2 separate regions of the Homo sapiens genome follow, and region 1 is linked to region 2. Evidence: fine-mapped expression QTL. A gene starts in region 2. The other region holds a variant in brackets. All regions are shown on one strand. Distances are from middle to middle.

Region 1 (16,728 bases), 78 kb before region 2:
CTGGAGGGCACCAGGCACACACAGGTACACACACAAACACGCAAGGCACACACACAGACACGCACAGACATGCACAGCCACACACAGATAAACACAAACACACACAGCTATGCACAGCACACACAGCCACACAGCCACAAAGACACACACAGACACACAGCCACAAAGACACACACGGACACGCACAGACACACAGCCACACAGACACACACAGACACACAGACACACAGAGACTTGCACAGCCACACACAGATAAACACAAATATACACAGCCATGCACAGCACACACAGCCACACATGGGCACACAAAGGTACACACAGACACACACAGCCACACATGGGCACACATAGCCATACCCAGATAAACACAAATACACACAGCCACACACAGTACACATAGCCACACAGACATGAACAGACAAAACACAGACACACAGAGCCACACACAGATAAACACAAATACACACCATCATGCACAAACAACAGGGACGCACAGCCACACACGGACACACACAGGTATGCTCAGACACATGCAGGTGCACAGAGACGTATGGGCACACACAGACACACAAAACAGGGGCACACACAGGCACGCAGAGACGTGCCCATCCTCTCACAGCCACACGTACCCACAGCCACAGCCACACCCATGGGCACCCAGCAACACCCGCCCTCCCAGCACAGCTGCCTGCCCACAGGGACACCACTACCAACGCCCAGCACCGACACCCTGGCACCAACGCCCAAAAAACGTCCTCAGCGGTGCCCACCCAGGCCGGCAGGCTCAGACAGACACCGCTGCTGCAGCGAGTGTGCCTGGAGTCCCACCTGCTGGGACAAGGAGACCTACAGGTGTGGATGCTGCCCGCTGCCTGCTGTAGGGGGCCAGGACCTCTGAGCCTGGCTGAGCTGGGCACCCCCGTCCCATGCCCAGGGGGTGCTGCAGGACTGTGGCCAGGCCAAGCCTTCCCAAGGCACCTCTTGGGGCCAGAGCAGCTTCCCAGGACAGCCCCCATGCCTGGCAGGCTCTCTGTGGGCTCCCCCTGTTCCAACGCCCTGTGGACCCAGCCTTGGAAGCTTCACAATGCCCGGTGCGAGGAGGACACGTGGTAATGAGAAAGGTGCCTGGAGCTGTCCAGCCTGCAGCATGCTGCCAGCGCCTCACTGGGTCCTCATGCCCTGTGCCCACTGGGTCCCTATACCAGCCTCTGCTCCGCCTGGCCCTTACACCCTCGGCTCCACCTGACTCCTACACTGGCTCTGCAACCATTCCCAGCCACAGAGGTTGGCTGCAAGTACTCACAGCTGCCCCTCCTCAGTGACTCGTTCTCAGGCAAACAGGAGGCTATGCCCCAGCCCAGGGGCAGCCCACGCTAGGAGTGACCACCCAGGAATATGAAACCCAGTCCCCTTACCTCAAAGCCCAGCCTACTATAGTACAATTTATGCCCCAGAGCTCCCTGAGGCTGTCTGCTGCCGAGACCCCCTCTTGCTTGCCTGTGTTCTCAGCCTCTTCTCTTCCTGGGAGGGCACCCCTCCCCCAACAAATCCCATGCATGAGAAACCCCACTGCAGATTCTTCTTCAGGGGAACAGGCCTGAGACAGTTGGTGCCAGGCATGGCACTGGGAAGCTGAGCCCAGGTGTGGGCTCTGTGATCAGCTCTCTCACTGACCAGGGCAAGGAGGAGCCCCTCATGGGGGTGAGCAGGGGAGGAGTGGATAGAGCCCCTGGCAGGCTAGAGCAGAACACTGTGGGATCACAGACCACCTGGTGCCATGTCCCCAGCACTTGAGAACTATGGGGAAACCTTAAGCAAAGAGCTGTGGAACGGGCAGCTTTTGCTGAGAGCCATGAAGGTCCTGAAGGAAGAAAACCCCAAGTTCAGATCTATAAATTCACAATCCAAGATCCAGTGTGAGAGTCCTAACGAGGTCATGGGTGTGGGCTTTTGTCTTACTCTGTTTGTGTTGCTATAAAGGAATACCTGAGACTGGGTAATTGATAAAGAAATGAGATTTATTTGGCTCATGGTTCTGCAGGCTGTACAGGAAGCATGGCACCTGCATCTGCTGCTGGGGGGGGCCTCAGCCTGCATCCACTCATGGCGGGAGGGTGAGAGCCGGTGTGCAGAGACCACATGGTGAGAGAGGAACCAAGAGAGAGGGAAGGTGCTGGGCTCTTCTTAACAATCAGTGCTCATGGGAACTCAAAGTAAGAACTTAGTTCTCACCCTCCTCCAGGGAGGGCATTAATCCACTCATGAGGAATCCATCCTCATGACCCCAACGGCTCACATCAGGCCCCCACCTCCAACACTGGGCATCAAATTTCAACATGAGGTTGGGGGACAAACATCCAAACTATAGCATTCCTCCCCAGTCCCCCCAAATTTATGTCCTTCTCACATGCAAAATACAATCATCCCATCTCAGGAGTCCCCTAAAGTTTTAGCTTCTTCCTGCATCCATTTAAAAGTCCAAAGTGCAAAGTCTCATCTAAGACTCAAGGCAAGTTTCTTTCAGGTATGAGCCTGTAAAATCAAAATCAAGTCATTTACTTCCAAGGTACAATGGTGGGACAGACATTGGGTAAACATTCCCATTCCAAAAGGAAGAAATTGACCAAAAGAAAGGCAGGACAGGTCCCACACAAGCTTGAAACCCAGCAGAACAGACATTAAATCTTAAAGCTCCCAAATCTCTTTTGACTCCATGTCCCACATCCCACGCTGGAAGGAAGGGTGGGCTCCCAGGACTCTGGACAGCCCTGCCCCCATGGCTTTGCTGAGCCCAGCCCACGTGGCTACTCTCACAGGTTGGAGTCCAATGCCTGGGGCTTTTCCAGGCTGCGATTGCACACTGCTGGTGTCTCTGTAATTCTGGGGTCCCCCTGGCAGCCCCATTCCCACAGCTCCAGTAGAAGAATATCTCCGAAGGGCTCTATCCCTGCAGCAGGGTTCTGCCTGGGCACCCAGGCTTTCCAATACACCCTTTGAAATCTAAATGGAAGTGGCCAAACCTCCAGCACTTTTGCATTCTGGATTCCTGCAGACTTAACAATACATGGAAGCCAGCAAGTCCCATGCCTCGTGCTCTGCAGGGCAGCTGTCCAAGCGGTATCTGAGGCCATTGGGACCATGGCTGGATCTGGGGTGGCTGGGATGTGGGAAGCAGCATCCCAAGGTGGTCCACAGCAGTGGCACCCTGGACCTGACCCTCCAAGCCACTCTGTTCTGCTAGGCCTCTGGGCCTGTGATGGGCAGGGTGGCCTCAAAGTCCTTCAAAATACCTTCAGGGCCCTTTCCCCATTGTTTTGACTGTTAGCATTATACCCTCTTTCAGTCATGCCAACCCCTCTAGCAACCGGTGTCACAAAGGACCTTGAATTCCTCTCCTGAAAACATTCTTTGCTTCTCTACCACAGGCCAGGCTGAAAATTGTCTAAATTTGTATGCTCTACTTCCCTTTTTATTAGAAATTCTACCTTTAGATCATTCCTTTGCTGTTGTAGTGATTGTAAGTTGTTAAAAGTAGCCATGGTACTTCTGGAACACTCTGCTGCTTAGAAATTTCTTCCACTAAACATTCTGGGTCATCACTCTTAAGGTTAGCCTTCTACAAAGCCTTAAAGCACGGACACAATGCAGTTGCAACCTTTGCTAGGGGTTAACAAGGGTGATCTTCGCTCCAGTCCCCAGTAAGTTCCTCATTTCTATCAGAGACCTCATCAGCATGGCCTCTATTGCCTGCATGTCTATCAGCATTTTAGTCACAACCACTTAACTAGTCTCCAAGAAGTTTAAAACTTTCCCTCATCTTCTTGTCTTCTTCTGAGCCCTCCAAACTCATTCAACCTCTGCCCATTACTCAGTTCCAAAGCCACTTCCACATTTTCAGGTATCTTTATAGCAACACCCCACTCTCAGTACCAATTTTCTCAGTCCACTTGTGTTACTATAAAAGCACACCTGAGACTGGGTAATTTATAAAGAAAAGAGGTTTATTTGGTTCATGGTTCTGCAGGCTGTACAGGAAGCACGGGGCCTGCATCTGCTGCTGGTGAGGGCCTCAGGCTGCTTCCACTCATGGTGGAGGTGAGGGGGAGCCAGTGTGTGCAGAGACCGTATGGCAAGAGAGCAAGCCAGAGAGATGGGAGGGAGGTGCTAGCCTCTTTTTAACAACCTGCTCTTGAGGGAACTAATAAAGTGAGACCTCATTTGCCCCGCTCTACCAGGGAGGGCATTAACCTGTTCATGAGGGATCTACTCCCATGACCCAAACACCTCCCATTAGGCCTCCACTTTCAACATTGGATCAAATTTCCACATGAGGTTTGGAGTGGACAAACATCCAAATTCTAGCAGCTTTAATCCAACCTGACTGATATACTTGTGAGAAGAGGAGATTAGAACCCAGACACACACAGGGGGAGGACCCTGTGAGGACACAGCTAGAAGGCAGCCATCTGCCAGCCAAGGGGAGAAGCCTCAGGAGGAACCAGCCCTGTGACACCTTGATCTTGGATTCCAGCCTTCAGGACTGAGGAGGATAAACTTCTGGTTATTAAGTCCCCCAGTCTATGGTACTTAGTTATGGCAGCCACAGAAAGTGAATTCGGGCAGCAAAGAGGAAATGGCACCAGTTGGCCTTACCCACAGGGGTCTTTGAGAAGGATAATAGAGCATGATGCTCCTAGAGGGGACAGGTGGGCAACCAACCAGGTGACCCTTTAATATAGAAACAAGGGATCAAGACTGGATGCCTGAGGCTGAGATCATTCTCTCAAATGCAATCCTGACCCCTTGACCATTTCCAGACCTCAGCCAGTTCTCAGACCCAGACTCACCAATGGAAAGAGAAGCTGGGTCCCCATGAGGCAGGACCCTGAAACAGCATACCAAATGCAACCTGTGGTATGTCCTCAGTCCTTTCCCCAAGGGACCTACAGCCACTGAATCAGATCATCACAGCTGATAACTGAGGGACACAACTATCTTTGCAGGGCTGTTGCATATGGAGTCTGCATAACACTCATAACACTGGTACTAGGGGACCCAAGTGCCATCATGGGCCCCCCATTAAAGAAGCAGCATAGGGGAGTTAGATAATAAGTGGAAATCTGGCCCAGGTCTATCTCATGGGGTGGGCTATGTTCATGAACCCATTTGAAGATTACGCCCCCAGTTCCTACACAAATAATCAACATGGACCCATAAGCAGGCAGACTCCTTCATCAGCTCCTTGACCTTTGTGGTAAGACCTATTATGGCAGGAAAGAACAAGTAGAAGTCCCTGAACCTGCCTTTACTCCAAAGCCAGAAAATAAGTCAAAACTGATGACACTCTCCAAGGCTTTTCACCCACTTCTGGCAAAGACGAAGTAACAGGAACTGGGTTTCCCCTCTCAGCTGAAATAATAAGCAAAAAGATTGAAGAAGAAAAAAAAAAAGAAACACTGGTTTTCAAGAAAGGATATTGGGCAAAGAAGGACAGTGATCCCCAAGAGAAGAAAAACAAAGTGAGCCCTACAATTGCCTTGTCTTGCTGCCCTGAGAGAGTTTTTGGACTGCAATACAGGGAGGAAAATTGAGGCAGAGCCCAATGAATCCAAGTTGAGGTAACAGAATTGGGGGTTTGGGGAGACCAAGGTGGCTAGAGTTTGCAGGGCAGAGAAGAGAGTGGTACAAAGAGTGAACCCTGGAGATCTCCAGAAGGTTCCCCCTAAAATATTCAGCAGGATACATTCATCACAGGCCTGGGAGGGAATGACCCAAGCCTGGAAGGACCAACTGAAAGGGTTCGGGGCTGCAAGACCCAGTACCTATGCAGAACTGGGAGAAGAACCAGTTCCCACCAGCCAGACTGGAAAATGTCATGATTCACAGGGCATTGGGTAGTGTACCAATAAAAGGGTCTTGCCCCAGCAGTGGGGAATAATTAGCCCTGGATGGAGTAATGTCCCAGGCCTGCCTGACAAGCCATAAAAGCAAGATATGAAAGGAACAAGTTGTTCCAAAGTATCTTAACTGCATCCCAGAACAAAGCTCAGCCGTGTTCATAGGAATGCAGACGTATCCAGTATCCAACACGGCAAAATTCACAACATCTGCAACCAATAAAAAATTGTGGGATCTGCAAGGAAGCAAGAAAATACACCCATAATGGGGAGAAAAATCAACCCATTGTAACAAACCCAGAACAGACATGAATGTTAGAATTGGCAGGCAAGGACATTAAAACAGTTATTGTAACTGCATTCCCTATGTACAAAGAGCTAAACAGAGATGTGGAGAGATGTGAAAAATGTAAGAATGAACCAAATTGAGCTGTCAGTATGAACACAGCAATGTCTGAGATAAAAAATACACTGGATGAGATTACTTAAAGATATACCAATAGAAAATATTCCAAATGAAATGAAAAAACAAGAATTGTTTTAAAATGATAAGAGTATCATTGAGCTATGGGACAATTTCAGGTGGCCTAGTATACAAGTAATTAGAGGGCCTGAAGGAAAGAATAGGGAGGGACAAAAACATTCTGAAAAAAGAATGGATTTTTATTTTCACCCTCAACATGTAAAGAGCTCCCATCCTTCCACCGGAAAAAGCAGAACAACCTGAAAATCACTAACTTTCTCAGACCCATCAGAGACTTGAGATTGTAGAGCAAATCACTCTCCTGAAATCAGGGAAATGGGGAAGTCCAGAGAGTTGTGGCCAAGACTGGCTTACTGGAGTAGAAGCCACGGGAGACACAAACAGACACAGATGTTTAAATGGTAGTTCTGATCAACTGCTGAGACAGGCTACCCTGAGAGTAAGAGATCCTGGGGGTGTGCAGTCTTGGGGGCTCCACGCTTTCATGGACTTTACCTCCAGGAACCAGTTTCTCACTGTGAAGAGCGCAGAAGAGCCTGGTAGGAGGCAGGTAGGGGGCAGGGGTGAAGAGTAATTGTGGAGCAATTTCCATAACAAAGTACTACTCTTCTGGGGAAAGATGTTTCCAGAGCCTTATCCCACCTGGGTGAAGGGCATTTCCCCAACTCCAGCCCCTTCTAGCTCTCCTGTCACTCCCAAGTTGCAAAAGCTATGACACTGGGAAATACTTGTGAAGGTTTCAGCCCGAGGCACAGGCTCACTGTAAGGCATTTAATTGGGAGAATATAGAACACTATTCTCCCCCTCATACCTGACTCCCTGTCAGAATAACATAAACCCTCACAGTAGAGGGCTCTTTACCTCAGTTTCTATTACCTGATAAACAAAAAATTTACAAGGCACACCAAAGGATAAGAAAAGGCACAGCTTCAAAAGACAAAACAAGTGACAGAACCAGACTGAGATATGACACAGATGTCAGAATTATCACATAGATAATTTAATATAACTATGATTAACATGCTAAGAGCTCTAATGAAAAAAATCGACAAAATGCTAAGAAAAGATGGGTAATCGAGCGGAGATATGATAATCCTGGGAAAGAATCAAAAGGAAATGCTAGAAATAAAAAACATTTTAGCAGAAACAGGGACCGCCTTCAATGGGATTATCAATAGGCTAAGCAAGTCTAAGGAAAGAATTGAGGAGCTTGAAGACAGATCAACAGACACTTTCCAAACTGAAATGCAAAGGAAAAAAGAGGAATTGAAAAAAACAAAACAAAACCAGAACAGAGCAACCAAAAACTGAGGGAAATTTAAAAAATGTAACATACTTGTAGTTGGAATACCAGAAAGAGAAGAAAAAAGGAATGGAGCAGAAGAGATGTTTGCAGTTATAATGGCTTAGAACTTGGCAAAATTAATGATAGACATCAAACCACAGATCCAGGAAGCTCAGAGAACACCAAGCAGAATTTTTTAAACATTAAAAAACCCTCAACTACACATAGACATATTATATTTAATCTGAGAAGACCTAAGACAACAAGAATTCTTGAAAGACACAAAAGGAAAAATACCGCATTACCTAGAGAGAAATATGGATAAGAATTACAATGACCTCTTGTCCGAAAACTGCAAGCAAGAAGACAATCAGATGAAATAATTAAAGTGTTGAAAGACATATACTACCAACCTAGAATTCTATATCCAGTTTTATATATATGTGTGTGTGTGTATATACATACATGTATGTATATGCACATATATGTATATATACACATGTGTATATGTGTGTGTATGTGTGCATATATATTTACATATAATTTTTAAATTATATAAAAATGATTTTTAAAGCCCTGAGAGGAACAAGGGCCACAAGTATGTTCAAAGTGTTGATGATACATGTGTCCTGCAATTCACATTAATTCTCACAGCTCTTAGGCTATCATTAAAAAAAATTTTTTTTCAGCATCAGTCTCACTCTGTTGCCCAGGCTGGAGTGCAGTGGTGTGATCATAGCTCACTGCAGCCTTGACCTCCTGGACTTTGAAATCCTCCTGCTTCAGCCTCCCAAGTAGCTAGGACTATAGATGTGCTGCACCACACCTGACAATGTTTTTATTTTTTATTTCTGTAGAGATGAGGTCTCACTATGTTGCCCTGGCTAGTCTTGAACTCTGGGGATGAAGTGATCCTCCTGCCTCTGCCTCCCAAAGTGCTGGGATTATGGGTGTTAGCCATTGCACCCAGCCTATATACAGTGATAGGCTGGGTGAAGAGAAAGTAAAGACTTTTGCAGACAAACAAAAATGGAAGGAATTTATCACCAGATCTGCCCTACAAGAAATGCTGGGATTACAGGTGTGAGCCACCACACCCGAATGAAATGTTAAGATTCTTTTTTAGACAGAGGAAAATTATAGGTCAGAAACTTGAATCTGCATAAAGAGAAAAGGAGCATCAGAGAAGGAATAAATGAAGGTAAAAGTAAGATCTTTTCTTATTCTAAATCAATGTAATGATAACTATTTGTTTCAAATAATATTAGTAAGAATGCATTGGGTTATTACAGCATATGGGTAAGTAAAATAAATGACAAGCATTATAAGGGATGGGAGGAGGAATCGGGACTTTATATAGTTTGGTATTTGTTCCCTCCAAATTTC[A/G]TGTTGAAATGTGATCCTCAATGTTGGAAGTTGGGCCCAGTGATAGGTGTTTTGGTCATGGGAGTGGATCCCTCATCAATGGCTTGGTGCCCTCTCTGCAGCAGTAAGTTTATGTGAAAGCTGTTTATTTAAAAGGGTCTGGCACCTCTCTTGCTTCCTCTCTTGCCATGTGACATGCCTGCTCCCTCTTTGCCTTCTGCCAAGGGTAAAACCTTCCTGAGGCCTCACCAGAAGCAGATGATGACATCATGCTTCTTATACAGCCTGCAGAACTATTAAACCTCTTTACTTTATCAATTACCCAGTTTCAGGCATTCCTTTATAGCAATGCCAAATGGACTAACACAGGACTTATCTGTGCTACTAATGAAGTGAAATGGTGTTATTTGGAGATGGACTTAGGTAAATTTAAAATGTATATTGTAAATGCTAAGGTAATCACTGTTTATCTGTTTATCAACAGAATAAACAGAAAACCTACAGAATGGGGGAGATATTCTCAAACTATGTATCTGACAAAAGTCTAATGTCCAGAATCTATAAGGAACTTAAACAATTTGATGAGTGAAAAACAAATAACCCCATTAAAAAATGGGCAAAATTGGCTGGGCGCGGTGGCTCATGCCTGTAATCCTAGCATGAGGATTTGGGAGGCCGAGGTGGGCAGATCACGAGGTCAGCAGATCGAGACCATCCTGGCTAACACGGTGAAACCCCATCTCTACTAAAAATACAAAAAATTAGCCGGGCATGGTGGCAGGCGCCTGTAGTCCCAGCTACTCAGGAGGCTGAGGCAGGAGAATGGCATGAACCCGGGAGGCGGAGCTTGCCGTGAGCGGAGATTGCACCACTGCAGTCCAGCCTGGGCAACAGAGTAAGACTCCGTCTCAAAAAAAAAAAAAAATGGGCAAAATTCAATAACAAATACATCTCAAAAGAAGACATACAAATGGCCAAGAAACATGAAAAAATGCTCACCATCACTAATTACCAGAGAAATGTAAATCAAAACCATAATAAGATACCATCTCACATCAGTCAGAATGGCTATTATTAAAAAGTCAAAAAATAACAGATAACGGCAAGGCTGCAAAGAAAAGGAACACTTATATACTGTTGATCAAAATGTAAATTAGTTCAGCCACTGTGGAAAGCAGTTTGAAGATTTCTTAAATAACTTAAAACAGAACTACCATCCCAGGCAACAGTCCCATTACTGGTTATATACCCAAAGAAAAACTAATCATTCTACCAAAAAGTCACACGCATTCATATGTTCACTGTAGCATGATTCACAATAGCAAAGACATGGAATCAACCTAAGTGCCCATCAAGGGTAGATTAGATAAAGAAAATGCGGTACATATACACTATGGAATACTACACAGCCATAAAAAAGAACAAAATCATGTCCTTTGCAGCATGGATGCAGCTGGAGGCCATTATCCTAAGTGAATTAACAGAAAACCAAATACTGCATGTTCTCACTTATAAGTGGGAGCTACGCATTGGATACACATGGACATAAAGATGGGAACAACAGACACTGAGGACTACCCAAGAAAGGAGAGAAGGAAGGGGGCAAGGCCTTAAAAACTACCTATTGGATATTATGCTCGCTACATAGGTGATGAGACCATTTGAACCTCAGGTTCATGCAACATACCCATGTAACAAACCTGCACAGGCAACCCCTAAATCCAAAATAAAATTGAAATTATATTAAAAAGTCACTATATAATGATAAAGGAACCAGACTTCCAAGAAGATACAACAATCCTTAATGTGTATGTACCTAACAACAGAGCACCAATACACATGCAGCAAAAGCTGATAGACCTGCAAGGAGAAATAGACAAATTTACTGTTACAGCTGGAGACTTCAAGACCCTACGGCCAGTAACTGATAGGTCAAGAAGACAGAAAATAGACAAGGATAAAGTTGACCTGAACAGCAGTTATAGCCCAACTTGATCTAATTCACATTTTAGACTACCTCATCCAACAACAGAATAATACACATTAATCTCTAGCTCATGTGGAACATTCATCGTGATAGACCACATTCTAGAATAAAACATACTTTAATTGAAAATAATAGAAATTATATAAAGTGTTCCCAGACCATAGTGGAATTAAACTAGAAATAAAAAACAAAAAGCTGGCAGGAAAATCCTCAAATATTTAGAAATCAAGCAATACACCTCTAAATAATCCAAGCTGAAAAGAAGTCTCAAGAGAAATTTAAAAAATATTTTTAACTAAATGAAAATGAAAATACAGTATATCAAAATTTGTAGGACTCAGCAAAAGCAATGCTGAATATAGCATTAACTGACTATAATTAGAAAGGCAATCAGTAACCTAAGCTCCCACCTTAGGCCTAAAACAAGCAGAAGAAAAATTTAATAAAAATTAGAGGATAAATGAATGAAATTCAAAACAGAAAAAAATCAACAGAAATAACAGCTGGTGCTTTGAAAATATTAATAAAATTCATAAACCTCTAGCTAGGTTAGGCAAGAAAAAAAGAAAAGACACAAATAATCAATATCAGAAATGAAAAAGTATCATCACTGTTAATCCCATGGACTGTGAAAGCATAATAAAGAAATTCTATAATTAACTCTATACCCACACATTTCACATGGATGAAATAGACCAATTTCTGGAAAGACACAAATTACCAAAACTTACACAAGGTGAAATAAATAACCTGGATATCCCTGTATCTATTAAAGAAATTGAATTAATTGAATTAATAATAGTAGCCTTCCTAAAAAGAAATTACCAGGCCCAAATGGTTTTAGCAGTGAATTCTATTAAAAATTTAAGGAAGAAGTCATACCAAATTCTCCACCAAAAAATCTCTTCCAAAAAATCAAGGTGACAGACACACTTTCTAACTCATTCTATGACGACAGCATTACTGTAATAACAAAACTCAGGTAAAGATATTATGGGAAAGGAAAACTATAGACCAATATCTCTCATGAATATAAATGCAAAGACCTTCTTAAAATTAGCAAAGTGAATCGAATAATAAATAAAAAGAATTATGAAGTACAATCCAAATGGGATTTATTCTAGATATGCAAGATGGGTTCAGCATTCAAAAAGCAATCTCTGTAATCCACACATCAACAGACTAAAGAAAACAATATATAACCATATCAAATGAAGCAGAAAATTTATTTAACATTTTTCTCTCTTTGGCTTCTTTCTGCTCTTTCTCTTCTTCCCCTTCCCTGTCTTCCTCTTCTCCACTACTCCTCTACTACTCCTCTTCTCCTCTACTCCACTTTTCTGAAGGGGGAAGACATTAGCTCTCCAAGTATGTAAGAAGTGGCTGCAGCCACCATAGGTATATCCAGTTTCTGTGACAAGATTTTAGTGATCTTGTCCAAAGTATCTTATGACCAACAGCTGGAGTTAAAAAGAGTGAAGTCAGTAAGATGGCAGAATAGGAGATTTCCACCATCATCCCTCCACAAAAGCATTGATGTTTCAACTACCTATAGATGACAGTATCTTTGTGGAAGTCCAGGAGTCCAGTGGAGAAGTTCTAGCACAGTTATAGCAAAAAATCTAATAATAAATGCATTGAAGAGGGTAAAAGAACCGTTTGACTTTATCCACATCACCCCTTTTTCAAGGCAGCATAGCTCAATGCCAAAATAAATCTATTAGGTCCATGACCTTTCCACAGAGGAAAGTGAGTGAGCACCAGGCTCCCCCAGCCATATGGCAAACTGCCCAAGAGGCCCACTGTTTCTCACCCCACTGAGAACACTGAGGTGGTCGGCACAGCTAAGTGGTTGCAAGAAACTGAGAGAAGGTGAGAAAGGCCATAGACCCTACTAATTTATCTGCAGACTTCATCATAAACATATAATGTGGGGAAGGAAGAGGAGTGAAGTAGTTTTTGTATGGGACTTAAGCTATTATCAGCTTAAAATAGACTGTTATATGATGTTTAATGCAATTCTCCTGGTAACCACAAATCAAAAACCTATAGTAGGTACACAAAATCAAAACATACAATTACAGAAAATCATCAGATCACGAAGAAAGACAATAAGAAAGGAAGAAAGCGACAAAGGGTGTATAAAATATCCAGAAAACAATGAACAAAACAGCAATAGTAAGTCTTTACCTATTAATAATTACTTTAAATGTAAATGGATCAAATTCTACAATCAAAAGACACAGAATAGCCAAAGTGTGGTGCACTCCTGTAGTCCCAGCTACTGAGGAGGCTAAGGCAGGAGGATTACTGAGCCCAAGAGTTCAAGTCCAGTTTGGGAAACATAGTGAGATCTCATCTTTTAAATTAAAAAACAAAACACAATGGCTGAATGCATTTAAAAAGCATGACCCAAGTATATGCTGCCTACATGAGATTCACTTCAACTTTGAGGATACACATAGACTGAAAGTGATGGGAAGAAAAATGATAGTTCATACAAATGGAAACCAAAAGAGAGCAGGGGTAGCTGTACTTATATCAGACAAAATAGACTTTATATCAAAAACTAACAAGAGAAAAAGATTATTACATAATGATAAAGTGATCAATTTACCAAGAGAATATAACAATATTCAACATATATGCACCCAACATTGAAGCACCTAAATATATAACTAACTAAAGGGAGAAATAGACAGCAATGCAATGATAATAATAGAAGACCTCAACACCCCACTTTCAACAATGGATAGATCACCCAGACAGAAAAATCAATATGGAAACAAGCACTGGACTTGAACTACACTTTAGACCAATGGACCTAACAGACATACACAGAACATTCCATTCAACAGCAGCAGAATATACATTCTTCTCAAGTATTCACAGAATATTCTCTAGGATAGATCATATGTTAGGCCACAAAACAAGTTTTACCAAATTTAAAATGACTGAAATTATATCAAGCGTCTTTTCCAACCATTTCCAATTTCTAGTTTGGTATCAAACTAGAAATCAATAACAGAAAAAAACAGAAAAATCCACAAATATATGTAAATTAAACAACACACACCTGAACAACCAATGGGTCAAAGAAGAAATCAAAAGGGACACCAAAAATATCTCAGACAAATGAAAATGGAAACACAACATACCAAAATGTATGTGATACCACAAAAGCAGTTCTAAGAGAGAACTTTATAGTGATAAACGCCTGCATGAAGAAAAAGGAAAGATCTCAAATAAGCAGCTTAACTTTATACCTCAAAGAACTAGAAAAAGAAGAGCAAGCTAAGCTGAAAGTTAGCAGAAGGAAGAAAATAACAACAAGCAGAGGTGGAAAAGATTAATGAAATTAAGAGTTGTTTTTTGAAAAGATAACCAAAATTGATAAACATTTAGCTAGATGAAGAAAAAAAGAGATAAGCTAAAATAAATAAAAATGAAAAAGGAGACATTCAACTGATACTACAGAAATACAAAGGATCATAATAGACCACTATGAGCAATTATATGTTAACAAACTGGATAATCTAGAAGAAACAGATATATTCCTATAAGCATAAAATTAACTAAGAATGCATCATAAAAAAATAGAAAATCTGAACAGACCAAGTAAGGAGATTGAATAACTAATCAAAATCACATATCAAAGAAAAGCCCAGGACCTCACGGCTTCACTAGTAAATTCTACCAAACGTTTTGAGAAGAACTAATAACAACTGTTCTCAAACTCTTCCAAAAAACTAAATTTTTGGAATACTTCCAAATTCATATTATAAAACAAGTATTACTCTGATGTGAAAGACAAGGACACTACAAGAAAAGAATACAAACCAATATCCCTGATAAACATAAATGCAAAAATCCTCAACAGAATACTAGCAGCAAACCAAATTCAAAAGCATATTAGAAGAGTGACACGCCAAGATCAAATGGGATTTATCCCTCAGACGCAAAGATAGTTCAACATAAGCAACTCAAAAAAGTGATACATCACATTAACAGAATAAAACATAAAAATTATATGATTATCTCAATAGATACAGAAAAATCATTTGTCAAAATTCAATACCATTTCATGATAAAAAAGTATCAATAAATTTGGTATAGAAGGAATGTACCTCAACACAATAAAGGTCATATATGACATCTCACCTCTAACAACATACTCAAAAATAAAAAGTGAAAAGCTTTCTCCCTAAGATCAGGAACAACAAAAAGGATGTCCACTTTTGCCAGTTCTGTTATACATAATACTGGAAGTCCTAGCCAGAGAAATTAGGTAAGAAAAAAAAGCAAAAAAAAGAAAGCATCCAAATCAGAAAAGAAGAAGTAAAATTATCTCTGTTTGCCAATGACATGATTACATACATAGAAAACCCTAATGACTCCATGAAAAAAAGTTAGAACTAATCAATTTAGTAAATTTTTAGGACACAAAATCAATATACAAAAATTGGTTGCATATTGATGTACTAACAATGAACTATCCAAAAAAGAAATTAAGAAAACAATTTACTTACAATAGCATCAAAAAGGATAAAATACTGAGGAATAAATTTAATCAAGGAAGTGAAAGATATGTACACTGAAAACTAAAACTTGGATGAAAGAAATTGATGAAAACAAACAAATGGAAGGATGTCCTGTGTTCACAGATCAGAGGAATTAATGTTGTCAAAATTTCCACACTACCCAAAGTGATCTAAAAGTCAATGCGAACTCTATCAAAATTGCAGTGGCATTTTGCACAGAAACAGAAAAAGCAATGCTAAAATTTTTACAGAACCATGAAAGACCCCAAATAGCTAAAGCAATGTTGAGCAAGTGGACCGAAGTGGAGGCATCACACTTCCTGATTCACCAGGACTCAAAGTCCTGGCTATTTCAATAAGACAAGAGAGTGAAATAAAAGGTATATAGATTGGAAAGAGAGAAATAAAACTGTTTATATTTGCAGATGCCATGATTTTACATCTAGAGAATCTCTAAGAAATCAACAAAATACTCCTGGAACTAAAAAGCAACTATGGCAAGGACCCAGGATACACATTAATACACCAAAGTCTATCACTTTCCTATATACTAGCAATGAGCAACTGAAGTCTGAAATGATAAAAAAAAAAAGATACCATTTACAATAGAACCCCCAAAAACATAATTCTTAAGAATAAATTTAACAAAATATATATAACACCTTGTAAAGGTTAATTTTGGTTGTCAACTTGAAGGGATACCCAGATAACTGGTAAAGCATTATCTATGGGTGTCCCTGTGAGGGCATTTCCAGAAGAGATTGGCGTTTGAATCCGTGGACTGAATAAGGAAGATCTATCTTCACCTGATGTGGGTGGGCACTATCTAATTGTCTGAGGGCCCAGATAGAGCAGAAAGGTCAATGGTCTACTTGCTCAGTCTCTCTCTATTTATCTACCTACCTATCTTTCCTGGAGCTGAGACACCCATCTTCCACTGCCCTTGGACATTGGAACCCCTGGTTCTTCAGCCCTTGGACTCCAGGACTTGCACCAGTGTCCCCCGGGTTCTCAGGCCATCATCTGCAGACTGAGTTACACCACCAGCTTTCCTGGTCCTGAGTCCTGCACACTTGGACTGAGCCATGCTCTTGGCTTCCCTGGTTTTCCGTCTTGCAGGAAACACATTGTGGGACTTCTCAGCCTCCATAATTGCATGAGCCAATTCC
Region 2 (8,065 bases):
AGCCCAGGCTGGGGTGGCCCAGGCAGGACAGCAGGCTTGGTGGTGCCCGGCCCCACATACTAGTGGGTGGCACAGCGTGGATGTGGATAGAGACGCCTCCCCTACAGTCTGTCCCTGGTATCTGTGACGCAGGTGTGGGGTCCCTTTAGACTCCCCTGGGAGACAGCTGTGTCTATGAAGGGGCAGCCATCCCTGGGTCCCCTCTGCCCTCACTGAGGGCAGAGCCTAGGCTCCTTGGGGGGGGAAGCAGGGTGCCCCTCAGTGCCCACTGGAGTTGGCCAGCGGAGGCAGCAGCCCACGGCACTGAGAGGGAAGGCCCGGGCAGCCATGCCCCAGAAACTCCCTTGGTTGGGAGCAGAGCAGTGCCCAGAGCCCAGAACCCAGTTTGAGTATGGTCTTGGCTCTCAAGGGACAGGCCAGGGTGCCTCCAGGGGAAGGGGGCTGCCCAGGCAGTAGGGGTTCAAAGGTCCCCTGGGGCCCACCCAGCTGACCCAGGCCTAGGGTAATCCAGAAGGGGAGCTGCCCTCCTCCTCCCTGGGCTCAGGAGAGGCTGCAAAGGCAGCTCCTGGGACGTGGATTTCAGAATCAGGGCAAAGGACAGACATGAGCCAGATTCAGGTGCCCGCGTGGCCCCCACAGGTCTCTTCAAGCTCCAGGCCCCACTCGCTGTGACGCAGGTGGGAAGCTCTTGAGTGCCTCCCCGGTGGGAGGGGCCGCGCTCACAGACAGCACAGGGGCCCCCAGGCTCCAGCCTCAGAGCCCGGCTGCTCACCTCTGATGGACAGAAAAGGGTCCCTGTCTCAGGAAGGTAGAGGCTGCCACCTCCTGGCCCGAGGACACAGCTTTCCAGAGGAGGGGCCTGCTTCTAAGTCCAAGTCCCATCCCAGCCGGATAGCCAGGGGCAACTGCCCAGGTAAACTGAGACAGCAGCAGCAGGCAAGCCAGTGCAGAGCTGGGTGATCCACAGGTTCATGAGCGGTGGCAGGTGGAACAAGGGCACCATGGGCGGAGGGTTGGGCAGCTGCAGGTGGCATCATTGAGCCAGGGGCCTCCTGGTGGGTAAGGACATTGTAGAGTGAGCGGGCGCACCTGGGACCCAGGAATTCACAGGAAGGAGAGAGGAAAAAGGAAGTCCCTGGCGGGTAAACACATATGCATGCACACACATCCACGTCTGCACACGCATCCACGCCTGCACACGCATCCATGCCTGCACATGCATCCACGCCCAATCTCTTCCCTGGAAATAAAGCCAGGGGCCCTTAGGCCAGCTTGCAGTGGGGCCCAGCCCTTAGGACAGGCTCCTTGGTGGGGTAGGGGTGGGGGCAGCTGTCCTCCTGGGCCAGCTCCTTGGGGCTGAACCCGCTGCTCGAGGGGTCTTCCAGGCTCCCAGCGGCCGGCACCACCTCTAGAGCAGGTGGGCAGGGGTGTGTGGGGTGGGCAGGGGTTTGTGAGGGTGGGCAGGGGTGTGTGGGGTGGGCAGGGGTGTGTGGGGTGGGCAGGGGCATGTGGGGTGGGCAGGGGTGTGTGAGGTTGGGCAGGGGCGTGTGGGGTGGGCAGGGGTGTGTGAGGGTGGGCAGGGGTGTGTGGGGTGGGCAGGGGTGTGTAAGGTTGGGTAGGGGTGTGTGGGGTGGGCAGGGATGTGTGGGGTGGGCAGCGGTGTGCGGGGTGGGCAGGGGTGTGCGGGGTGGGCAGGAGGGTGTGGGGTGGGCAGCAGCCTGCACAGTGGCTTCCCCTCAACAAGCCACTTCCTCTTGCAGAGGGAATGTTGGGGTGGGAGGGTGTGGCTCAGCAAAGGGCGTGGGGGTTCCACCGGCTCCCTGCCCCCGCTGGTGGGGCACAGTGAGGGGGGCTGTGGTCAGACCTGGTCTCTGGAGGGCCAGCCGGGGGTTCCCGTCCACCTGTCAGGGGGTTCGACGCCACTTTGAGATGACAAGTGAGGCCACCTGGGCACAGCGCTGGTGTGAGAAGGAGGCCATCAGGACAGGTCAAGAACCCAGGCCCGCCCTGCTCCGAAATTCTTCAGACCTGATGAAGAGGTGTCCCAGAAGCGGGTGGTGCTCCAGGCCCGCCTCACCAGCTCCAGGGAGGTCAAGGTTGGAGAGAGACAATTCTAGGGGCGAACCAGACATAGCCAAGAGCAGCTCATCTTCCCTGGAGAGGACGGGCTGCCCACTTGCACAGCCCGGGGGCCTCCTGCCCCTAGACCTGGTACCTTCACTCTTGTTGCCACCCCTACATTCATACCTGCGCCCCAGTCTGAGCCACACCTAGGCCCCCAGCTGAAGTGACACTGTGGGTGCCAGGCATCTGAGGTCTCCACAAGCCCCCACAGACTCAGGGTGGGAATTCCTGGGGGCCAGAGCTGCAGAGGGTGCTGCCTGGGGGTGCTGGGCTGGACGGGGGTCCTGGTTGTCCCTCCTGGTTCTCCTGGTTCTCCCTCCGCAGAGGGAGGGAGGCGGTGGCCTCAGCAGTTCCTCCAGCAGCGTTCCTGAGCGGGCGGCAGCTGGGCCCTCTTCCCACAGCCACGCTGGGGTTGCCATGCCTGCAGGTCTTGGGGCCCCCTCCCCCTTGATGAGGTCCTGACCAAATGCAGGAGGAGCAATTCCAGCACCGAGGGGCGAGCAGAGCCGCCTGTTAGCACTCCTGGGAGGGCCCGGAGTGGTCCCTGAATGATGGATTCACCTGGAACATTTTCACCCTCTTCAGGCCCACCCTGCCCCAGAGGCCCACGGAAACCCTGCCTGTACTGGGGCCGCAGCGCTGCCCCCACCCATACGTAATTACACGGCTCGGTGTAATTGCAAATTCGAGGTTTACAAAGCCTCCCCCTGGAGGCCCCACGTGAGTGTGAGCGAGGCCCCAGCCCACCCCTGTGGCCCCAAGAAGGCTCTGCGACAAAATATCCATGAGTGCCGCCCACGAAGGCATTAAAACCAACGACCTTCTCAAAACTTAAGCTGTCACAGGACATTTCAAAGGGTGTTTCCTAAGAACACCTCAATAATGATGTTCCAAGGAGACCCCATCCAAATTCCTCCAAGGATTACGCCCCCAAGGCCCAGTCCACACTTGCTCACTCCCAGGACGGGGAGCTCACCTCCTCCTCCCCGGGCGCCGTCTCCTCCACATCCCACACCAGGTCCTGCCCATGACTTTCCCCCTCTCAGCGCCGTCCTCAGTGGCCACACCAAGAACGAGGCCATGTCTTCCTGGGAAGGGCCTCAGATGTCAGCAAATGCCCTGGTGTCTTGGGCTGGGCTGGGGGCACCAGGGTGAGGTGGTGGGGGGAGCCAACCTCACTGCCCCTCCCCTTCCTGCCTGCCCTTCTTCCGGGGCACCCAGCAGCTCGGTCCTAGGGCGATGTTGACAGACAGACAGAGGGGCGGATGCAGCCTACCTCCTGGGCAGTGAGCTGCGGTCTGAGGCCCCTGCCCAGCTGGAAACCACAGGGAGGGGAAGGGAGGGGAGGAGAGGAGAGGAGAGGAACCGTCATGGGGCCTTGGAGTCGAGTCAGGGTTGCCAAATGCCAGATGCTGGTCACCTGCTTCTTTATCTTGGTAACAGGCAGGTCGGGCAGGAGTGGGTGGTGGGTGGGGGTGAGCAGGGGTGAGGGGTGGCAGGGCCTCAGCACAGGGATTATCCCTCCCCTGACACACACACCAGCCCTACTGTCCCTGTCCTGCCCTTGCAGACATGTGTCCTGCCCTTGCAGACAGCCGCAGGCAGGCAGGGACCACCATGAGCAACCCCGTCTCTCCTCCTGAGGGGCAGCACAGAGCCTGGAGGAGGCCTGAGTGGGGCTGAGGCCTGGGGCGAGCTGGGGTGGAGGGGCACTGGCTGCCGGGCTCCAGGGATCTTCTCCCCTTCCTGCCCCGGAGGGTGCTGGCACAGGGGTGGGGCTCACTCCCACTCCGTAGACACAATGATCAGAGGTCCTGGGTGTCTGGGGAAGCTGGGCTGTGCGTGTATGCGTCTACCATGTGGGGGTGCCTGTGAGTGTGCTGGGGCGTCTGCAGTGAAGGCCTCCTGAGACCACTCCACGGAAACACCGGGAATCCCTGCAGCTGAGCCTGTCTCTCACGGGACCGGGAAGCTGGAGAGAGCCCCAACCCTGCCCGCTGGGGCCGAGCTCCCTGCTCCTGCAGCAGTCCCATGCCCCACACTCTGAGTCTGCCCTATCCACAGCTGCTGGGCCTCTCTGTGGCCACCATGGTGACTCTTACCTACTTCGGGGCCCACTTTGCTGTCATCCGCCGAGCGTCCCTGGAGAAGAACCCGTACCAGGCTGTGCACCAATGGGGTAAGTGAGGTCCAGGCCTGGCTGCATCGGGAGGGGCCTCGGGTGCAAGGGTGGCTGGCACGAGCCCAGCTGGACGCCTCACAGCCAGAATGGTGCCAGGCCCTAGGCAGGAGCCAGAGGTGGTCAGGGGCAGGGAGGGGCTGCCCTGGAGTCCTAGCTCCCCTGGGCAGGGCCTCGGGTCTGGGTGACAGCCAGTGTTCCTGCCTGGTTCTCGTGCCCCACAGGAGCGTGGGCACAGTGTGGGTATATGTCGGGCAGGGTCAGGAAGTGGCTCTGTGCGGTCAGGACCTGGCTCTGTGCAGTCAGGGCTCAGTCCCAGGCAGGCCTGGGACTGGCCTGGGGCTGGGCACAGCAGGTCCATGAGGGCTCCACATGGCTGATGTTCCACTCAGGACCTGGGATGTGGGTGGGGAGGGGGTGGGGGCTGCTCTAGCCAGACGCCTCCCTGCAGGGACTCAGCAGCGACTTATCCAACATCCAGAGAGCGGGAGCGAGGGCCAGAGCCTGCTGGGGCCACTCAGGGGTAAGGCTGAGGAAGGCCCCTTTAATGAGGGGATGTCAGAGCCAGATCTGCAGGGGACTCTCAGGCAGGAGCTCAGGGGGCCCAGGAAGGCTGCAGCCCGGTGGGCAGATGTAGGGAAACTGAGGCCCAGGAGGTCAGGGATACTGCCTTAGAACCCAATGCTTTTCCCCAAGTCCTAGGACCAGGGCCTCCCTGGAGGAGGACGCCTGGGGCCCAGGTCCAGGTCCGGACTGATAAGATTACAGCTCCAGTCCGGCCACTTGTCACTAGGACATGGCAGGAGGATGCCTGGGGCCCAGGTCCAGGTCCAGACTGATAAGATTACAGCTCCAGTCCGGCCACTTGTCACTAGGGCATGGCAGGGAGCATGTGGCTTCCAAGATAGCCCCACAGGCATGGAGGGCAGGGAGGAAAAGAGGGAAGGAGGGGCAGTCCCCCAGGCTGAACGAGTCCCACCTCCCTCCTCCTTCCCTCAGGGCCGTCTGATGGAGAGACAGGCCCATTCAGAGCCCCCCAGGAGTCCCTCACGGCCCCTGACTCCCAAGTTAGATTTCACACCCAGGCTGTGTGCACTCAGGACCTGTCCTGGGCACCCCTAACCCTCCTCCTCTCTCCTCCCAACCAGCCTTCTCTGCGGGGTTGAGCCTGGTGGGCCTCCTGACTCTGGGAGCCGTGCTGAGCGCTGCAGCCACCGTGAGGGAGGCCCAGGGCCTCATGGCAGGGGTGAGTTCATTGTGTTCCCAGATGCCCAGGCCCCCAGAAAAGAATTAGAAAGGAGTGAAGAGCTGGCAGGGCTGTGTGCCACCCCCACACCTGAGTGACCAGGCAGAACCAGAGGCCCCAGGGATGCTGGCCAGCCGAGACCCCCACGTCAACCCCACACCTGAGTATCTAGGCAGAAACAGAGGCCCCAGGGATGCTAGCCAGCCGAGACCCCCTACCTGGGTAGCCAAGGCCCCTCCACCAGGCCCTACCTCACCCTGTCATCTACACGCCCAACAAGGGTTCCTATAGGAGCTCTGAAAGAGAGAGACGGCCCTCCTGACCCTGGGAGCTGTTTCCAAAGTCCCTGGGAGGGTCTGGTTCTATTGCCCAGCAAGCTCTGGGAGGGCACTGGGAGCATCCCATTTCCTGTTCGGAGGAGGCCGGGCCAGGCTCAGGAAACGCCCCTTGAGCTCTCCAGCCTGGGCTCTCCGGAGCTGCACACTCTCCTTCCCAGCTGCCGGAGGTGTCTCCCCAGCCCCGAGGTCCCATAGGCCCCTCCACCCCACCCCATAGCAGTGGCCTCTTGTCACCCTCATTCCTACTCCTCCCCATGGGCTTCTGTCTTGGTCCCTGCCACTCGATGGTCATCGCAGACCCCACCTGGCGGCAGCCTCCCCACGCCTGTCCTGCCCCTGCTAGGCCCACAGCCCTCTTCTCTCACCCCAGCTGGGGCAGCTCCTCCCTGGCGCCCCGGGCTCCCACCTGTCCCTCTAGCCTCCCGTCTCCCCTTTCCAGCCATGAGGAGCTTGTGCTGGGGGCTTTGCTTCCCTGTTTAGCCTGTGAAGCTGGACCACTCTGGGGGTCCCTGAGGGCAGAGCCTCCTGGGTCCCCAGGGCTGGCAGGGTTTTCAGCTCAGCCTTCAAGTTCAGCAAATGCTTGTTTAATGACCCTGGTTTATAAATGTCTCCAAGAATAGGAATAGAGTCACCTCCTGGAGCTGCTGCCGGGCCAACCAGCCCTGGGTGGGCCCATGGTGGGCAGAGGAGGACCCAGCAGCTCCAGCACTAGCCAGGATTCCTGCTCCGGGGCACACGAGCATGGGCAGGGACAACCCCGGCCTGTGCTATCTGGCTTCAGGGCCAGGTGGGAGGCCCCAGTGGGGAGATGACAAGGCAGGTAGTCTGCCCCCCCCCCCAGAGGGTGTGTGGCCTGCAAAGGGACACCTGGATGGAAGAAAAGGTTGGCAACAGGGCCAGGCCAAGGGGTCCAGGTCAGAGCTGGAGGCCCAGAAAGAACCAGCGCTGGGGCTGCAGTACCGTCCACCAGGGGGTGCCATGGTGCTGGGCTTGAGGCCACATATGCAGAAGCCAGCCGCTGGGCCACGGGGCTCCTGTCCCAGTCACCAGCCTTTCCCACCCCACCTTGCCCCCGTGCACAAACCAGTCTAGCACCCTCATCTGTGGCCAAGGCGGTCAGGGAGCACCTGGGCTCAGGTTCTGTGTCCCCAGCCAGCCCCAAGGCCAGGGTGACTTGACATGTGGGTCAGGCCTGTAGAGCAGCCTTGGAGGCCCCCAACTGGATGCCTGCACTGGGCTGGGGTCCTGAGGACACTCCAGTCCCAGCTGGGTGGGCTCCAGCACAGCTCCCAAGCCCCAATGCACTTAGACCCAGCCTGGATGGTGAGCTCAGCATGGCCACAGCAGGGAGCTGGGAGACCCCAGTCAAGAGACCTGCTCCATTGAGCTGCATGCATGTGTGTGCATGAGGGTGAGCCTATGTGTATGCGTGTGCAAATATACATGTGTGTGTGCATGTGCATGAGTGTGTGTGTGCATGTGTGTGTGCGTGTGCAGGTGCCTCTGTGTGTGTGTGTGTGTGTGTGTGTAAGTATCTGTCACCGGTCTTCACCTGCCCCTGTTGCCATACGGGTGTGGTGTCTGCGTGTTGCATCTGGCACATCTGTATGTGTGTCTGCACGCATGAGCACAAGTGAAGGGGCTAGGGAAGGGGAGCAGGGAGTGGAAAGATTTTTTCCAATGGGCTGGGCGCCTGGATGCTCCCCACAAAGCCCCTTCCTGCCTGCCCCCACCCCTCCGGCCTCTCCCCTAGCTGGCCTCTCGCACAGGAAATGAAAGAGCTTGCTGGGCTGAGAGAGCAGAGCTGGCAGCGCCGCCCAAGGAAGCACATTCAATTCGCTTATGTATCTATTTATTTATTTCCATTTAGAATGAGGAGAAAGAAAATGGCCAGGGCAGACCTGACCACCCAGCAGCCTCTGATGGTGAAGGCCCTGGGGAGGTCTGGGTGGGCCCATCCACCACCCAAGATCCTCTCTGCGCGGGAGGTTGGTGGTGGGGGGAGAGAGAGAAAGAGAGAAAGAGAGAAAGAGAGAGAGAGGCCGTGGATGCTCTTTCTCCTGAGGAATGAAATGGTTTCTGGAAAATGCTGGTCTCCTGAGCTGGCTCAGGGCCTCAAGCCTGGGAGGCAGCATTGAGTGATAGCTTCCAGATGGGGATGGTGGCCCTCAGCCAGCA

The links.
Region 1: its variant is fine-mapped to the expression of TSPAN32 in whole blood (INTERVAL, PIP 0.99).

Annotation. Positions count from the first base shown.
Region 1 is chr11:2,216,654-2,233,381 of GRCh38, forward strand. No RefSeq gene overlaps it. Among named protein-coding and RNA genes, the nearest start is that of ASCL2, 46 kb to the right of the region's middle. RefSeq lists an enhancer at 6,710-7,284. The variant A/G (reference allele first, on the strand shown) is at 9,053.
Region 2 is chr11:2,298,656-2,306,720 of GRCh38, forward strand. TSPAN32 (tetraspanin 32) reads left to right here and starts at 3,358. Exons shown (of 10, transcript NM_139022.3): 1 at 3,358-3,560; 2 at 4,189-4,303; 3 at 5,452-5,549. The coding sequence starts at 3,495. C11orf21 (chromosome 11 open reading frame 21) reads right to left here and starts at 3,263. Exons shown (of 4, transcript NM_001329958.2): 1 at 3,101-3,263; 2 at 1,865-1,958; 3 at 773-1,052. The coding sequence starts at 3,153. The coding sequence ends at 801. RefSeq lists a silencer at 604-898 and an enhancer at 7,262-7,929.